2 separate regions of the Homo sapiens genome follow, and region 1 is linked to region 2. A link means that fine-mapping ties the variant in region 2 to the expression of a gene that starts in the linked region. Tissue or cell type: cerebellum. Region 2 holds a variant in brackets; the other region holds the start of a gene. All regions are shown on one strand. Distances are between the middles of the regions.

Region 1 (8,104 bases), 110 kb before region 2:
TCTGCCAAAATTAGAAAACCTGCTGTGAGTCACCCAGTTCAAATAAGATTCTTTGACTCTAAATCGGGGTTTTTAACCTCAGCTGTGCATTGAAATCCTACAGGGAGCTCTACAAAATACCTATGACTCAGTCCCATTCCCAGTAGTTGAAGGGGTGCTAGTGCCAGCTATGGCCCAGGAAGACTTTTAAAGCTCTCCAGGTGATTTTTTTTTTTAGACTGGGTTTTTCTCTGTCACCCAGGCTGGAATGCGGTGGTGGTGCAATCATGCCTCACTGTACCCTTGACCTTCTGGGCTCAAGTTATCTTCCCACGTGAGCCTCCTGAGTAGTTGGGATTTTAGGCATGAGCCACTGTGCCTGGCCCTTATTATTATTTTATTTTTAATTTATTATTATTTTTTGAGATGGAGTCTTGCTCTGTCACCCAGGCTGGAGTGCAGTGACATGATCTCGGCTCACTGCAACCTCTGCCTCCTAGGTTCAAGCGAGTATCCTGCCTTAGCCTCTAGAGCAGCTGGGACTACAGGCGTGTGACACCACGCCCAGCTAAGTTTTGTATTTTTAGTAGAGACGGGGTTTCACCATGTTGGCCAGGCTGGGCTGGAATTCCTGACCTCAAGTGATCTGCCTGCCTTGGCCTCCCTAAGTGCTGGGATTACAGGTGTGAGCCACTGCACCTGGCCTAATGCTCCCTTTTTTCTGTTCCTAAGCCACTTTGTTCATACCTCAATCTTAACACTTCTCACATTATTTGGAAGTTATCAATCTTCTTATCTTAATGCCTATACATTGCAAACTTTAGATGGTGGGGGCTGTGTTATTTAACTCTATACTACTGCTACCTCTGTGCTGCAATTATCTTTTTTTTTCTTTTTTAGTGACCGGGTTTAGCTCTCTCTCTGTTGCCCAGCTGGAGTGCAGTGGCAAGACTCATCAAAGCTCACTGCAGCCTTGAACTCCTGGGCTCAAGATCCTCCCTCCCTGGCCTCCAGAGTAGCTGGGACTACAGGCATGCGCCACCATGCCCAGCTAATTTTTAATTTTTCTGTAATCTCATAGGGTCTGGCTATGTTGCTCAGGCTGGTCTCTAACTCCCAGCTTCAAGCGATTCTCCTGCCTTGGCCTCCCAAACTGTCGTGGTTACAGGGATAAGCCACTGTGCTCAGTCTATGCTGTCTTTCAATAAAGACAAGTGCTTAAATTTAATGTAGTTTAAATTTATCAAAGTTTTATTTACAGTTTGTGATTATGGCACTTAATAAACCCTACCCTGAGATCATAAGGATGTTTTCTTTTCTTGTAAAAGTTATAATTTTGGGGAACGATAGTAAGAAGAAAAAAAAAGTTGTAATTTTAAAATGCTTTAATTTCCCCTGTAAGTCTTTAACCTACCTTGAATTAGTTTTTGCATAGGGGATCCAACAGGTAACTGGTTGTTCCAGCCCATGTACTGAATACTCTATCTTCCCTCACTGAACTATAATTCCAGCCATACCTCATTTCATAGATGCCTGCATGTTTGGGCTCTGTAGGTGGTTCCATTTCCCCCTCTGCCTTTCCCTATTCCAATATCACATGGTCTTAATTTGTATAGCTTTATAATACATGTTGACATGGAAGGGTGCGTCCTTGAAACACATTTTTCTTCTTCAAGAATGTTTTGGCTATGCTTTGCCTTAAAGTGGTGGTTTTTTTTTGTTTTTTGTATTTTTTTTTTTTTTTGAGACAAAGTCTCGCTCTGTCACCCAGGCTGGAATTCAGTGGTATGATCTTGGCTCACTGCAACATTTGTCTCCCGGGTTCAAGGATTCTCTTGCCACAGCCTTCTGAGTAGCTGGGATTACAGGTGTGCACCACCATGCCTGGCTAATTTTTGTATTTTAGTAGAGATGGGGTTTTACCATGTTGGCCAGGCTGGTGATGAACTCCTGACCTCAACTGATCCACCTGCCTTAGCCTCCCAACGTGCTGGGATTACAGGCACGAGCCACTGCGCTGCCCTTTGTTTTTTCATACACACTTTTGATTAGTTTGTGAAGGTCCAGAAAAAATTATGTTGGAAATTTGATTGGAACTGCATTGGACTGATAGATTAATTCCCCCATGAAAAAAATAGCTCAAGAGATGTTTATAGAATAAACAAACGTCTGAGGCCTGGCGTGGTGGCTCACACCTGTAATCCCAGCACTTTGGGAGGCCAAGGCCAGAGGATGGCTTAGCACAGAAATTCGAGACCAGCCTGGGCAATATAGTGAGACCACACCCCCCAGCTTTTCTTGAGAAAAAATTTAAAAAATTTAGCCAGGCGTGGCAGTATGTGCTTGTAGTCCCAGCTACTCCACAGACTGAGGCAGGAGGGTACCTTGAGGACAGGAAGTTGAGGCTACAGTGATGGAGCCTCTACACTCCAGCTTGGGCAACACAGCCAGACCCTGTCTCAAAAAAAAAAAGAGAAATGTTTTTGATACATGTCTTCAAAGTGCATCTTATAAGTCAACATTTGATAATGGAGATCAGTGAATGAATGAATAAGGGCCAAAGATAACTAAGATTAGCTAGCATATTATATTTATTTATTTATTTATTTTGAGACGAGTCTTGCTCTGTTGCCCAGGCTGGAGTGCAGTGGCCCAATCTCAGCTCACTGCAACCTCCACCTCCTGGGTTCAAGCAATTCTCCCACCTCAGCCTCCCGAGTAGTTGGGATAACAGGTGCCCGCCACTATGCTGGGCTAATTTTTCTTTTTCTTTTTTTTCTTTTTGGAGACAGAGTCTCACTCTGTTGCCTAGGCTGGAGTGCAGTGGCGTGATCTCAGCTCACTGCAACCTCCGCCTCCCGGGTTCAAGCGATTCTCCTGCCTCAGCTTCCTGAGTAGCTGAAATTCCAGACGTGCACCACCACACCAGGCTAATTTTTGTATTTTTAGCAGAGACAGATTTCACTATGTTGGCCAGGCTGGTCTCAAATTCCCGGCCTCAAGTGGTCCGCCCACCTTGGCCTCCCAAGGTGCTGGGATTACAGGAATGAGCCACCGCACCCGGCTTAATTTTTCTATTTTTAGTAGAAATGGGGTTTCACTATGTCGGCCTGGCTGGTCTCCAACCCCTAGCCTCAGGTGATCTGCCCGCCTCAGCCTCCCAAAGTGCTGGGATTACAGGTGTGAGCTACTGCGTCCTGCCCAGCCAGCATTATTATTATTATTTTTGAGACGGAGTTTCGCTGTTGTTGCCTAGGCTGGAGTGCAATGGCGTGACCTCGGCTCACCGCAACTTCTGCCTCCCGGGTTTCTAGTGCCTCAGCCTCCTGAGTAGCTGGGATTACAGGCATGCACCACTAGGCCTGGCTAATTTTTGCTATTATTAGTAGGGACGGGGTTTCTCCATGTTGGTCAGGTTGGTCTCAAACTCCCGACCTCAGGTGATCTGCTAGCCTTGGCCTGCTGGGATTACAGGCGTGAGCCACCGCCCCGCCAGCATACATCAATTGTCAGTAAATTTCTTCTTCGCCTACTAGTTCCAATATCTTATTTAAAATCTATGGCCCGGTGAGGTGGCTCAGGCTTGTAATCCCAGCACTTTGGGAAGTCAAGGCGGGTGGATTGCCTGAGTTCAGGAGTTCAAGACCAGCCTGGGCAAAATGGCGAAACCCCGTCACTCCTAAAAATACAAAAAATTAGCAGGGCGTGGTAGCACACTCCTGTAATCCCAGCTACTCAGGAGGCTGAGGCAGGAGAATCACTTGAACCCGGGAGGCGGAGGTTGCAGTGAGGCGAGATGGGCCACTGCACTCCAGCTTGGGCGACAGAGTGAGACTCTGTCTCAAAATGAATGAATGAATGAATGAATGAATGAATAAAATCTACGAGGTCGGGCGCAGTGGCTCACTCTTGTAATCCCAGCACTTTGGGCGGGCGGATCATTTGAGGTCAGGAGTTTGAGACCGGCTTGGCCAACATGGTGAAACCCCATCTCTAAAAAAAATACAAAAATTAGCTGTACTGCTTGGGCGACAGAGCGAGACTCAGTCTCAAAAAAAAAAAATCTACAAATCCACTTCATCTTTCATTAAACACGAACCTGGGACGTAGTTAGAATGTCTTGAAGAAAATATTTCAGTAATATTCCAAGTCCGTCGCCCTGGCAAAGCAACAAGGCCACCTGACGGAGTAAGCCCGAGACCCCTGTGCCTCCACAGTACTGCCCGCGGGATCGCGGCGTGGGGAACCAGGAACTACAAGTCCCGGCAGGCCGCGCGCGCCTCGGCTTCACTAAGCGCAGTCAGGTGGCTGTCCCCGCACGGTTCCCAGCTAATTCCCCGCTACCGGGTTGCGGCCGGAAGCCGGGCGCCGCGGCTCTGCTTCCCTCGGGGTGAGTAGGGGCAGCTCGCCGGAGGCCGGCGCAGAGCTCGGGCCGACCAGCCTGGCAGGGCCGCACCGCGCCTGGAGCGCGAGGGAACCGGCATGGACACGCCGGGAGTCGGCCTCTGCTCCGGTTGTGCAGCCGCCCTGGGCGCCGGGAGGGACAGCCCCATGACCTTGTCACCTGGGCCCGGCGCGCGGCCACGTGGCTCGGGTGACTCGCATTGCCCCGCCCCCCTGCAGTGACTTCTCCAGTTTGGCACACCAGTGGGCTTTCATGTGACCTGTCCACTTCAGTGGCACAGTCTTGCAGGCACCCGAGTGGGCAGAGCTGGAGGAGGGCCGGAGGTGGCTCACCCAGACGCCTTCACCCCCTGGTGGCCCTGTGAGTTCCGAGGCAGAAGCAGCTGGAGCTGGAGCGTGGTCTGGGCAAGAGCAGGGGGCGATGCCCATATCCTGGCCCTCCACCCGGTCTTGCGAACGTGCCCCAGACCGCTGCTTATCTCCAGCATCTTGCAGGGCCCTGGGCTTCCAGATCACACAGTAGATATGTGCTAACAGCAGCCAGTGTGTGTGGAGAGCAACCTTTAGATAAGACACCTAGAACAGCCCTCTCCCAGGGTTAAGTGGCATTTACTTTCTACTAACAAGAAAGTCATTCAACAAGTATTTATTGTTTACCTCCATGATACTTGGCACTTAGTAGGTGCTCAAGAAATATTTGCAGAGTTGAAGTGAATTAGACTTTATCTGTGGCTTCATATGTTTTATTTAATAATTTTCTTGGGGCTGGATGTGGTGGCTGATGCCTGTAATCCCAGCACTTTGGGAGGCCAAGATGGGAGGATTGCTTGAGGGCAGGAGTTCAACACCAGGCTGGGCAACATAGTGAGACTCCCGTCTGTATTAAAAGAAAAAAAGGAAAATAAATAAAATAATTTTCTTACTACAGTGGTTCTCAAACTTTAGCATGCACCAGAGTCACCTGGAGAGCTAGTAACAACACACAGTACTGGACCCCATCCCCAAAGTTTCTGATTCTGTAAGTCTGGTATGAGGACCAAGAATTGGCGTTTCTAACATGCACCCAAGTGATGCAGTTGCTGTTGGTCTGGGGACCATACGTTGAGTACCACTGCTTTATAGGAAAAAAAATCCTGTGAACTTAAAGCACTATCTCTTCACACCTGGTTACGGGTCTTTCTGTCTTTATTTGCCAGTTTTACTTTTTTGGTGATTGTAAATATGTGCATATTACTTTGTACACTGTTAACTCCCTCCATATTAATTTATATACAGATTTTAATGTAGTCTATACTTGTCATTTTTCCTGGTTACATCATATTCTACCTTATTGGGTCATTCTTTGCTTGGCCATTTCTCAACTGGCCTCAGGGATGTGCGATTTGATCTGTACTAGAAGAGTGTGCATATTCTTACTTTCTGCTATGCAGTCATTTTCTTGTCAGACAAAGGACCTGTAAGAATATTAGTTGGGGCCGGGTGCGGTGGCTCACACCTGTAATCCCAGCACTTTGGGAGGCTGAGGTGGGCGAATCACTTGAGGTCAGGCGTTCAATGCCAGCCTGGCCAACATGGTGAAACCCCATCTCTACCAAAAATACAAAAAAATTACCTGGGCGTAGTGGTGTGTGCCTGTAGTCCCAGCTACTTGGGAGGCTGAGGAGGAGAACAGCTTGAACCCGGGAGACGGAGGCTGCAGTGAGCCGAGATCGTGTCACTGCACTCCAGCCTGGGCGACTGAGCAAGACTCCGTCTAAAAAAAAAAAATTTAGTTGGGTCAGCCATCCATTTCTTCACCAGGGTAACTCACTAAATATGCCTCCTGGGTTAAGGTTTCCATGTTGCAGGGACTCCAGTGGCCTATTTCAGGGCCCAGCAAGCTGCTTGTTCTTGTGCACTTTTTGCTCTCTTGGTGGGAGCAGTCATACATGGATTCAAGTTCTGCCTCCATCACTTACCAGCTCCTTGGCCAAGTTTTCTACCTTTTCTAAAACACCACTTCCTTATCCATAGATTGAAGCTCTAATAGCATGCACCTCGGAATCTGGTTGTGTGAGTTAATGAGCTAATAAGTGCTTGGTACTGTAGCTCTCCCGTTGGAAGCTCACTCTCTTCTCTTACCTGCTGCTTGCTCTTTGCATCTGGCTTTGCCCTATTCTCCCTCAGTCTGCCTTTCCTAGGATGGACTGAATGGAGGATTTCTATTCCTTGCCTGGGTGAGAATTATTTTTGTTGTCTATTCTGGGACCTTGGCATCAGTCAGGGATTCCTTTTTTTATTTTTTGAGACAGAGTGTTGCTCTGTCGCCCAGGCTGGAGTGCAGTGGCACGATCTTGGCTCACTGCAGCCTCTGCCTCTCGGGTTCCAGCAATTCTCTTGCTTCAGCCTCCCGGGATTCCTTTATTTAATCAACATTGATTTAAGGACCTTGAGTGCTTAGGCATCAAACACTAGGAAAGGGAGTTTGATTAAAATTTGGTTCCTAGCCGGGCGCGGTGGCTCACGCCTGTAATCCCAGCACTTTGGGAAGCCAAGGCGGGCGGATCACGAGGTCAGGAGATCGAGACCATCCTGGCTAACATGGTGAAACACCGTCTCTACTAAAAAAAATACAAAAAAATTAGCTGGGCGTGGTGCCGGGTGCCTGTAGTCCCAGCTACTCAGGAGGCTGAGGCAGGAGAATGGCTGGAACCCGGGAGGCGGAGCTTGCAGTGAGCCGAGATTGCGCCACTGCACTCCAGCCTGGGCGACAGAATGAGACTTCATCTCAAAATAAATAAATAAATACAATTTGGTTCCTGGACTACATTACTATCTTAGGGAGGGCAGACTGTAAACCTGCTCAGGCCAACTTCACACAGTCCCTTGCTATTGACTTGGTGTCTTTGGCATCTTTCCAGACTTGAGGCATGATGGTATCATTCACTTTGTGTGCTTTCTATCCATATCAGGGACCAGGTTCTTCTGAAGACCCTATCACTCTCTCCAAGGGTATTTTTGGGTCTTTTTTCAGTTTTGGGGGCAGACTAGAAGAAATAATGCTCATTGGTATAATAGTCTCTCTAGGAAATGGGAGGAGGCCATGGTCACTTTTCATGGAACTAGAGACCTAAGTGCCTTTTCTCTGTGGTAATTCTCATTTGTGCACCAAACAGGGAAAGGTGATTCCAGGCCTTTAGTCCTGAAATGTAGCATAGGGAGAGGGCTGCCAATGGATGGAAACTGAAAAGGCCTAGCTAGTCACTGACTCCGATGAACAGTAAGTGCTTGGTTTCCCATTTAGTTCTGTCAAGGGGACGGACATTTCGTGTGACCATCAGCTTCCCATTTGTACGTCCCAGACTCTCCTGTTGCTTCATTTTCATAACCTACTGGGGTGTTTCCTGTGGTCCAGCGAGATGGATTCCATTCTTGTCATTGATTTGACAATAAAACAGCCATGTCAGCTTTGCAGCTCTCCTAAACATTTGATAGACTGAAATGGCTTGTTTCTAGTGGGAGGCATTGGTTGATCTTGTGACATCCTGTTGATTTTGGGGGCTCCAAACAGTGCCTCCCACATGCCTGGCACTGGGTCAGAAATCATAGTCTCTGCCCACAGCAACAGTTGCATTTACTTGAGAACAGCAGTAAGGACTTTAGTGAACAGGAGTCCAGGTGTTCCTATCAAAGACGTTACCTGTCATAAAGAGAAGGGCTGAATACTTGGAATGAGTGGGAA
Region 2 (8,104 bases):
TGGGAAGTATGATAACTTCCCATGAATCTCAAAGATTAGGAACTACAGATGGATAGTAATTAATATATAACTTCTTTTTTGCAGAGTGATTTATATTCTTTAATTCTTTAATTCTTACAACAGCCTCACAAGGGAGGTGCCATAATCACCCCCATATCATCAGTTGGGAGACTGAGGCTCAGAGCTATCAACCCTTTGGGCAGGGTCACAAGGCTTACCACTAAGGGGAGGGAATAGAGGTAGCCTGCTCCAGAGCCTGCATGTTCACCCTCCATATGGTTTTGCTCTGTGGGGAAGTTGTGAATTCCAGTGAACCGTCTAGAGCATAACTCTCAGCCCTGGTGTGTATCAGAGCCCTCTGTGAAACTCGATGTGGCTGTCCTAAGAGCAATCGATGTTTTTTCCAGCAGCTGCTAGTGTCTGGTTCCATGTTGAGTGCCAGTACTCTGCTCATAGTAGTGGGAAATGGGGGCGGAGGTGGGGTTGTGCTTCCACTGTAACCATTATCACCATATTTTTGGTGGAGAAACTGGTGTTCAGAGAGGTTATATAACTTACCCACAGTCACACAGCTTTTAGGTGGCAGAGCCGGGGCTCCAGCCAGCAGCCTGACTCCAAATCTGCCGGTCTGACTGCATGTCTCCAGGCCTTCTGCTGTGCTGGACTCAGGCTCCAGGAGGACTGTGGGCCTAGGGTGATGGGCACTGTCTCAGACAAGCCAGGCGCAGCCTGTTTCGTGGGCATGTTGACCAAAGCATAGAAACAAAGCAGAAATGTGAGGTCAGGGCCAGACTGTGAGGCTGAGGCCCAGGGTCTTGGGCTAAAACTTCTCTAATTGGTGCCCTCCTTCTTGGGGTCCAGATTGGCATCCGTGTGGGAGGCAGGAGGAGCCCACAGGAGGGAGGCCTCTGCTCTGTGGCAAAGAGGTAGAACCTGGACCCAGGGGTCCTAATGGTCAGGGTGTGACCCTGCTGGTGGGGCCGCTGAGCACCCTGGCCATGAGCTCCTTAGAGTTTCAGCTTGCTTTGTTTGGGGGTGGGATGGGGGAGTGCGGGGTGCTTATTGACTCTTTCAAATTTCTCTTTTTCATTTTTTCCTTCTTTGATGGAAGAAGCATAGGACAGGAAATGTGGGCGCTCACTTCACCCCACACCCCCAGGTCCTCCTGCCCATCTGGTGATTTAGGCGCAGCTCACTTTTTTAACTGAGCAGGAGCAGTTTGGCATTTTGCAGTCATTTCCATGTTATGTCTGTCCAGGGGCACCTGTGGTTCTGAAGCTCCCATGACAAATTCCACTGTTTCCCAGGTTTGATATTTTAGTCATTTCAGATTTAAGCAGCAGAAGCAAGGGGCACATTCTGTGGTTAGACTGGAATGGTGATGTTTGCAGGGAGACCAAAAAGGGGGAAACCGCAGTACACCCAGGACCCTGATGCACAAGCACAGAGAAGCTCCAGCCTGTGGGATTTCTGTTTCCACCTGTGACTCTTTCCTAGCTGGTTTTTTTTTTTTTTTTTTTTGAGATGGAATCTCACTCCCTCTGTCACCGTGGCTGGAGTACAGTGGCGTATTCTTCACCCACTGCAACCTCCGTCTCCCAGGTTCTAGCGATTCTCTTTCCTCAGCCTCAGTGATCTGCCCTCCTTGGCCTCTCAAAGTGCTGGGATTACAGGCGTGAGCCACTGCGCCCAGCCCCTCGCTGTTTTTTAAGCTGCCTCTGGTGGGGCTGGCTAGAGATTTGACCTCTTGTCTCCAGAGCCTTAGGGGCCCACTGTCAAAGGTAGGTTTACAAACAAACCCAAGGGAAGAATTTAACCCGAAAATATGTCCCATTCATTTGGAAGCCATGAACAAAAACAACAGGCAGGGCACGGTGGCTCACGCCTGTAATCCCAGCACTTTGAGAGGCTGAGGCAGGAGGATCTCTTGAGTCCAGGAGTTCGAGGCTGCAGTGCGCTATGATGATGCCACAGCATTCCAGCCTGGGTGACAGAATGAGACCCTGTCTCTAAAGAAACCGACAAAGCAACAATAGCAAACATGCACTCACTTTTTTAAAAAGAAACTTTTTGAAAAATGCCAAGCAAGTCTAAATTTTAAGTTCAAAGTATCAGTTTCACAGATTTCTCTATTGGCCCAGATTTTCAAATGGCAGAAACCGCAGTCAAGCAGCAAACCAAAATAACACCTTGCTTTCTGGTGGAAACTTTGTTCCAACTAGAGCATTTCACTTGTATGTACAGCCCCCATTTATCCTCAGAGGTCCTTACTGAGATAGGGCAGAAACAATTCTGCTTTCCAGTGAGGAAGACTGGGATGTAAAGAAGTTAAGTGGCTAGTCTAAGACACAACAGTATTAGCAGAATTAGGAACAGGAAATAGGTCTGTTGACTTGAGGGCCACTATGTTATTGCTAGATGAATTTGGGTGGTCAGGGTAAAGGAAAATCTTACTCTCCAAAACATTTGAAAAAGCTGCCCATGTTTCTTTATTTGTAAGAGGAAATAAACTCCTCACAATTTGGGGGAAACTCGGCATGCTGGAAGCCCAGTAACCCCTCCCTCCTGGCTGTGGGGGTACTGGTGGGTGTCCCTTGCTCACATGGCAGCCTGGTTGCATTCTAGTCTCTTGCCCGCTCCTGGAGAAATCTGTTCTCTTTTTGGTTTTTGAGTGTTATGAGAGTCAGAGAGGGTTGGAGAGTGTATGTTAGTAATGCATTTGTCTGTAGGCAACTGAAAGCCTCATTTAGAGTGCCTTAAACAAAAGAATTTGTTGTCTTCACATAGCAAGAAGGTTTGCAGTGGTTGCCTACTGACATATGGTTTTGGTGGTTTAACAGTACCAGAGCTGGCTTCTCAGATTTTTAAATTTTTTTATTTTTCCTCATTGTTGCAAGATGGCTGCTACAGCACCAACAGTCACATTCACATTCACTTTCGAGGCAAGAAGAGAAGTGGAAGAAGAGTAGCACTATGCAAATACCCCCTTTTTTTTAAATCAAGGAAATAAAAACCTTCCCAGAATCCCCTAGCAGGTTTCCATTTTTGTTCATAAGTCAGAACTATGTCACATGGCCATACCTACTATAAAGCAGGCAAGGAAAGTATTTAGGTTTTTTATTTGTTTGTTTGTTTTCAGACAGGATCTTGCTCTGTTGCCCAGGCTGGAGTGCAGTGGTGTGATGTATAAGGTCACAGCACACTGGCTTTGACAGCGATCCTCCCACCTTAGCCTCCCAAGCTGGGATCACAGGCACGCACCACTATGCCTGGCTAATTTTTGTATTTACTGTAGAGACAGGGTTTCGCCACGTTGCCCAGGCTGGTCTTGAACTTCTGAGCTCAAGCAATCCACCTGCCCCAGCCTCCCAAAGTGCTGGGATTATAGGTGTGAGCCACTCCGCCTGGCCCCAGTATTTAGTTTTTTTCATCTCTAGGGAAGAGGAGGGTTGGGAATAGATGTTGGGTTAATATCCAATGTTGTCTGCCCCAGGAAACGTGTTTTCCTACAGGAAACAGGCATGAGAAACAAAATTTATCATCTGGTTAAAACTCAGTCATTTGCTCAATACACACAATGCACCCATTACCTGGGTGAAATATTGGAGGCAGAGGGAGGAGTCCGAAGTAGGCCTGGTGGCGGGATGGGGAGAGGAAATATCCTTAACAGCAATGCCCAGGTGTGAGGTGTTCCAACATTTTCCTCCCAAGTCCCAACTTTAGTTTTGGCTCTTAACAGCATTAGAAGGCACTGAGGAGAGTTGGCAAAGCCGGTATCTAAAGGAGTGGGCGGAGGCCTGCTGAGCAGAGGTGGAGTAGCCAGCCTCCCTCTTGGCCTGGCTGTCCCATCCCCACTGTCACCGCTGAGGTCCCTCCTGGGCCTCTTCTCCCTTGCTCTGGGAGGAGCCTCTGTTGCTGTCTGGCTCGCTGTGCCACATTGTCATCCTTGCCCGATTCCCAGCTTCCCCAGACCATCTGACCTGTCCCTTCCTATCCCAGGTCCCCCGAATCCACTGGGACCTGTCCACGGAGCGGGTCCTCCTGATGGAGTTTGTGGATGGCGGGCAGGTCAATGACAGAGACTACATGGAGAGGAACAAGATCGACGTCAATGAGGTGAGGTCAAGAGCTCAGGGCTGCTGTGC[C/T]GGGGAACGTGGGCTTGGTCAAGGCTGCCCAGGAAGTGCCTGTGTGTCCAGGTGAGGCCTCAGAGTCTGGCCCCCTTGTCTTTAATAGGGCCCATTGTCTGGAGAATTATAAACTTTGAGCAAGAAAGATTCTTTCAGGTCATTTAGGCCAGCCCTGTGCACACAGCGGCCTGCAGGGACATGCTGAACCCCTTCTGCCATTACCTGCTTTTCCTTTGTACCATCTGAGCCCCACAAAGCTAAGCGGCCACAGAGAACAATGATGCAAAATCAGTGGGACTTAATCCTTTTGGCTCTGTGGGGCCTGTCTGTTGTCTCTTCCCTCTTCCTGCCCTTCTCTCTCCTTCCCACTTCCCAGATCTCAAGGGATCAGGCAAAAAGGGGACAGCAGCAACCAACTGCATCAGCCTCCTAGAGCAGGAAAAAAGAGGTGGGCTTTGTGTGTCCCCCCTCCCATCCCCCTTGTCCCAGGGAATACTGGCCAGTGGGTAGGACCTGTCCCTCACTTTCTGCTTCTTGGTTGCACAGGGTCCCACAGGAATGGGTGGAGTTGTACTTTTTCAACAACATTCATAATTTCATTTTTATGTTTTTAGAGATGGGGTCTTGCTCTGTTGCCTAGACTGGCGTGCAGTGGCACAATCATAGTTCACTGTAATCTGGAACTCCTGGGCTCAAGCAGTCCTCCCACTTTGGCCTCTCAAAGTGCTGGCATTACAGGTGTGAGCCACGTGGCCAGGCTCAACATTGATCATTTTAATAGTGTCTGCTATATGCTAGGTATGGGGGCTCGCAGGGGGACCAGACCTAGTCCCCAGAGCTTAGCATCAGAGTCAGACACACATCTAAATCCTTGCTGTATCTCAGGCAGCGAGAGGGTGTGAGGAGAACCCCAGGGAGAGTGAGGAAGAGGCACTGAGGCCTGCCACAGGTTGGTGTCCCCAGCAGGATGAGTAGGAGTTTTCCAGGGAGTGGCTTTGCAAGAAGGGGAAGGGAATGGGTGAAGTTTGGCAGGGCTGGGGCAGGATTCCTTGGGGTGTGTGGGGAGATAAAGTAATGGTCTTGGGTGTGACCTTGAGGCACTGTGGAGTCACTTCAGGGTTTTGGGGAGTGCAGCAACATGTTCTGCCCTCTGGGATGGAAGGAAGGAAGTGGGCCACGCCCAGTGGAGGTAAATGCTTTTTTTTTTTTTTTTTTTTTCCCTGAGACGGAGTTTTGCTCTTGTTGCCTAGGCTGGAGTGCAATGGCGCAATCTTGGCTCACTGCAACCTCCGCCTCCTGGGTTCAAGTGATTCTCCTGCCTCAGCCTCCCAAGTAGCTGGGATTACAGGCATGCGCTACCATGCCTGGCTAATTTTGTATTTTTAGTAGAGACAGGGTTTCTCCATATTGGTCAGGCTGGTCTTGAACTCCTGACCTCGGGTGATCCGCCTGCCTCGATCTCCCAAAGTGCTGGGATTACAGGCGTGAGCCACCGCGCCTGGCTGTGAATGCTCTTTTCTATTCCACTCCCCATGTCCACAGGCAGTGCATGAAGATGAGCGTGAGCATGTGGTCCCAATGGGGAGTTGGCCCACAGGAGAAAGCCATACCTTGGCTCAGCAGATGAGCCCAGGGGGGTGGCAGGGGAGTGTGGTGGTTGCACAGGCCTCCTGGTGGCCATGTGACTGCTGTAAATGGGGTCAGTATCTGCCTCTAAGAGGGGCTGTGAAGACTATGTGAGTTAGGGTGCAAACAGTGCTAAGCACAGTGCCTGGTGTGTGGCTAGCATTCCAGAAGAGTAGCTGGGTGGTGGTTGTTGATTTCCTTATATTATCTTTGGGCTCTGTTCTTTCTTTCTCCTTTTACCATTAGCATTTATTGCATGCCTAACTTCCCTGTGCCAGGCCCTTTTCTCCATAATAAACTTATGAGGGTGGTCTCATTGTCTCCATTTTGCAGACAAAGAATCAGAGTCTCAGAGAGAGAAGGTCACACAGCTTAGCAGAGGTGGGATTGAGACCTGAGTCTCCCTGATTTCACTCTTCCTGTTAGGCCACAAAGGAGGGGCCGCATCAAAGTGCACAGAGCTGCTGCCAGGAGCATGGTGGGAACGTTTCTCTGTGGCTGGCTCAGGCCTTCTAGGAAAGCTGTTGTCCCCTGACTTAGGGAACAGTGCTTCAATAACCCATTCAAGGGCCTTGGGGTGTGTGGGATATGGGCAGGCTACACTGAAACAGATACCACTCTGTTTTACCCAGGGCAGCTTTGCCAATGCGTGAGCTGCCTATTGGACTTTTCTGGAAGAGTTCTGCTGCTTGGAGGGAAAGGGATGAGAAAAAGAGTTCATCCTTCTATTTTACAGATGGGGTGAAAAGTTCTGAGAGGGAGCAAATGTCTTTCCTGAGGTCACTTGGCCAGTAACACAAGTCAGGGCTTCTGACTCTGCTGCCTTCACTGGTGGCTTCTAGGGTGGTACATGGGAGGTGTTCAAGCAGAATACAGTCTTTGGTTCCAGTGGCGAAGGGATTCGATGGGATGGGAGGCCACCTCTGGCCTTTCCTGAACGGCCTTAAAGGGAAACAGGGTCTGTCGCCTGCTGATCAGGAAATATCCCAGAGGCCTCATCCCCGCCAGGTTCCTGGCATTTACTTACTACCAGCTGTGGAGGCATTTTCATTCCAGCAACACCCTCAAGTCCATTAATCTCTTTGGATCCAGTGAGCCCAGAGCCGTAATGGTGTTTAATCAGAGGCAACGTTGATTTTCCAAACAAATGCAAACACAGAAAGGTGCGCTCTGGGTAGTTGTTTGCTTATGGCTGAGTGCTGTGCCTGGCCGGAGGGGGCAGCTAGGCTGGAGCTGGGCAGTAGGAGCTGGGCAGGGCGTACCCTCTGAGGACTGGTCTCATCTGCTTCTGCCTCCCCGCTCTTTTGATACCTTGTAGATAAAGCCAGTGGTCTGTGCAGAGCAGATCCTTGGTAGACATTCTTAAATTAGTGAATGGGTAAACAAACCAGCCTCACACCCTAGATTGGCCTCTACCAGGCAGGCCTAGGGGAGAGTGTTGGTTGTTTTCTTGTGGACATGCAGAATGGGGCAAGCTGATATCAGAGTTATTTGGGGAAAAACAATAACTAATAATAATTATAAGCAACTAATATGTGCCAGGCATATGACACACATAATCTCTACTCATTACAGCTCTCCTATACAGTATATATTATTAACCCTATTTACAGATGAGAAAGCAAATGCTCAGAGAGGTTAAACAACTTGCCCCGTATCACACAGCTAGCAGGGGTAGAACCAGGGTTTGAACTCAGGTCTGCATGACTCCAAAGTCCTTGCCCCTCTACCTTCTCCATTTCCCTGCCAGGGATCTATAGGTTGGTGCAAAGGTAAATGTGTGTTTTGTTTTTTATTTTGGGCCATTGCAAAAACCACAATTCTTTTTGCACCAACCCAATACCTTGGGCTGCTGGAACCTGGAGCCACTTGGTAACTAACTACTCAGAGGAGCTGGAGCACCATCTGAGAAGCATTGCTCTGCACCAAGGCAGTGTCTGAATGTAACACCTCTCTCTCTGGCTTACATCAAGGATCACTTCATAGAAACATTTTTCTGTTTTATCGTACCCATCTCTAAGTAAGTGATTTTGTGAGGACTGTGTGAGTTAATGCACAAACAATGCTTTGCACAGTGCCTGGCGTGTGCTAAGTAAGTTCCCCAAAATGATAGTGAGATGAATGTTGTTGTTGTTGTCATTGGGCTATTTTTTTCTCTTCTACCTCCCCAGCTTTCTTTTTTTTTTTTTTTAAACCATTAATGTTTACTGACTGCCTGGCTCTGTGTACCAGGAGCTTTCTGCATTATCAACTTATGAGGGAGGTCTTATTGTCTCAGATTTGCAGATGAAGAATCAGAGACTCAGAGAGGGAAGATAACTTACCTGAGGTCACAAATTTTAATTGTATAC

Direction of the effects. Alleles are on the strand shown, and positions count from the first base shown. SD is a standard deviation of normalised expression in the study named.
As copies of T replace C in region 2, the expression in cerebellum of the gene that starts at base 4,308 in region 1 goes down (large effect, 0.93 SD a copy in GTEx).

Evidence for each region. PIP is the estimated chance that this variant, and not a neighbour inherited with it, causes the effect.
Region 1: it holds the start of ADCK1, and the variant in region 2 is fine-mapped to the expression of ADCK1 in cerebellum (GTEx, PIP above 0.99). The same link has a PIP of 0.9 or more in amygdala, atrial appendage, caudate, cerebral cortex, gastroesophageal junction and hippocampus.

Annotation. Positions count from the first base shown.
Region 1 is chr14:77,795,802-77,803,905 of GRCh38, forward strand. It overlaps ADCK1 (aarF domain containing kinase 1), which reads left to right and starts at 4,308. Exons shown (of 11, transcript NM_020421.4): 1 at 4,308-4,369. RefSeq lists silencers at 419-468, 479-528, 4,234-4,593 and enhancers at 3,633-4,171, 4,172-4,710, 4,784-4,833, 4,844-4,923, 6,305-7,144.
Region 2 is chr14:77,903,804-77,911,907 of GRCh38, forward strand. ADCK1 (aarF domain containing kinase 1) reads left to right here. Exons shown (of 11, transcript NM_020421.4): 7 at 4,000-4,116. Among named protein-coding and RNA genes, the nearest start is that of ADCK1, 110 kb to the left of the region's middle. The variant C/T (reference allele first, on the strand shown) is at 4,146.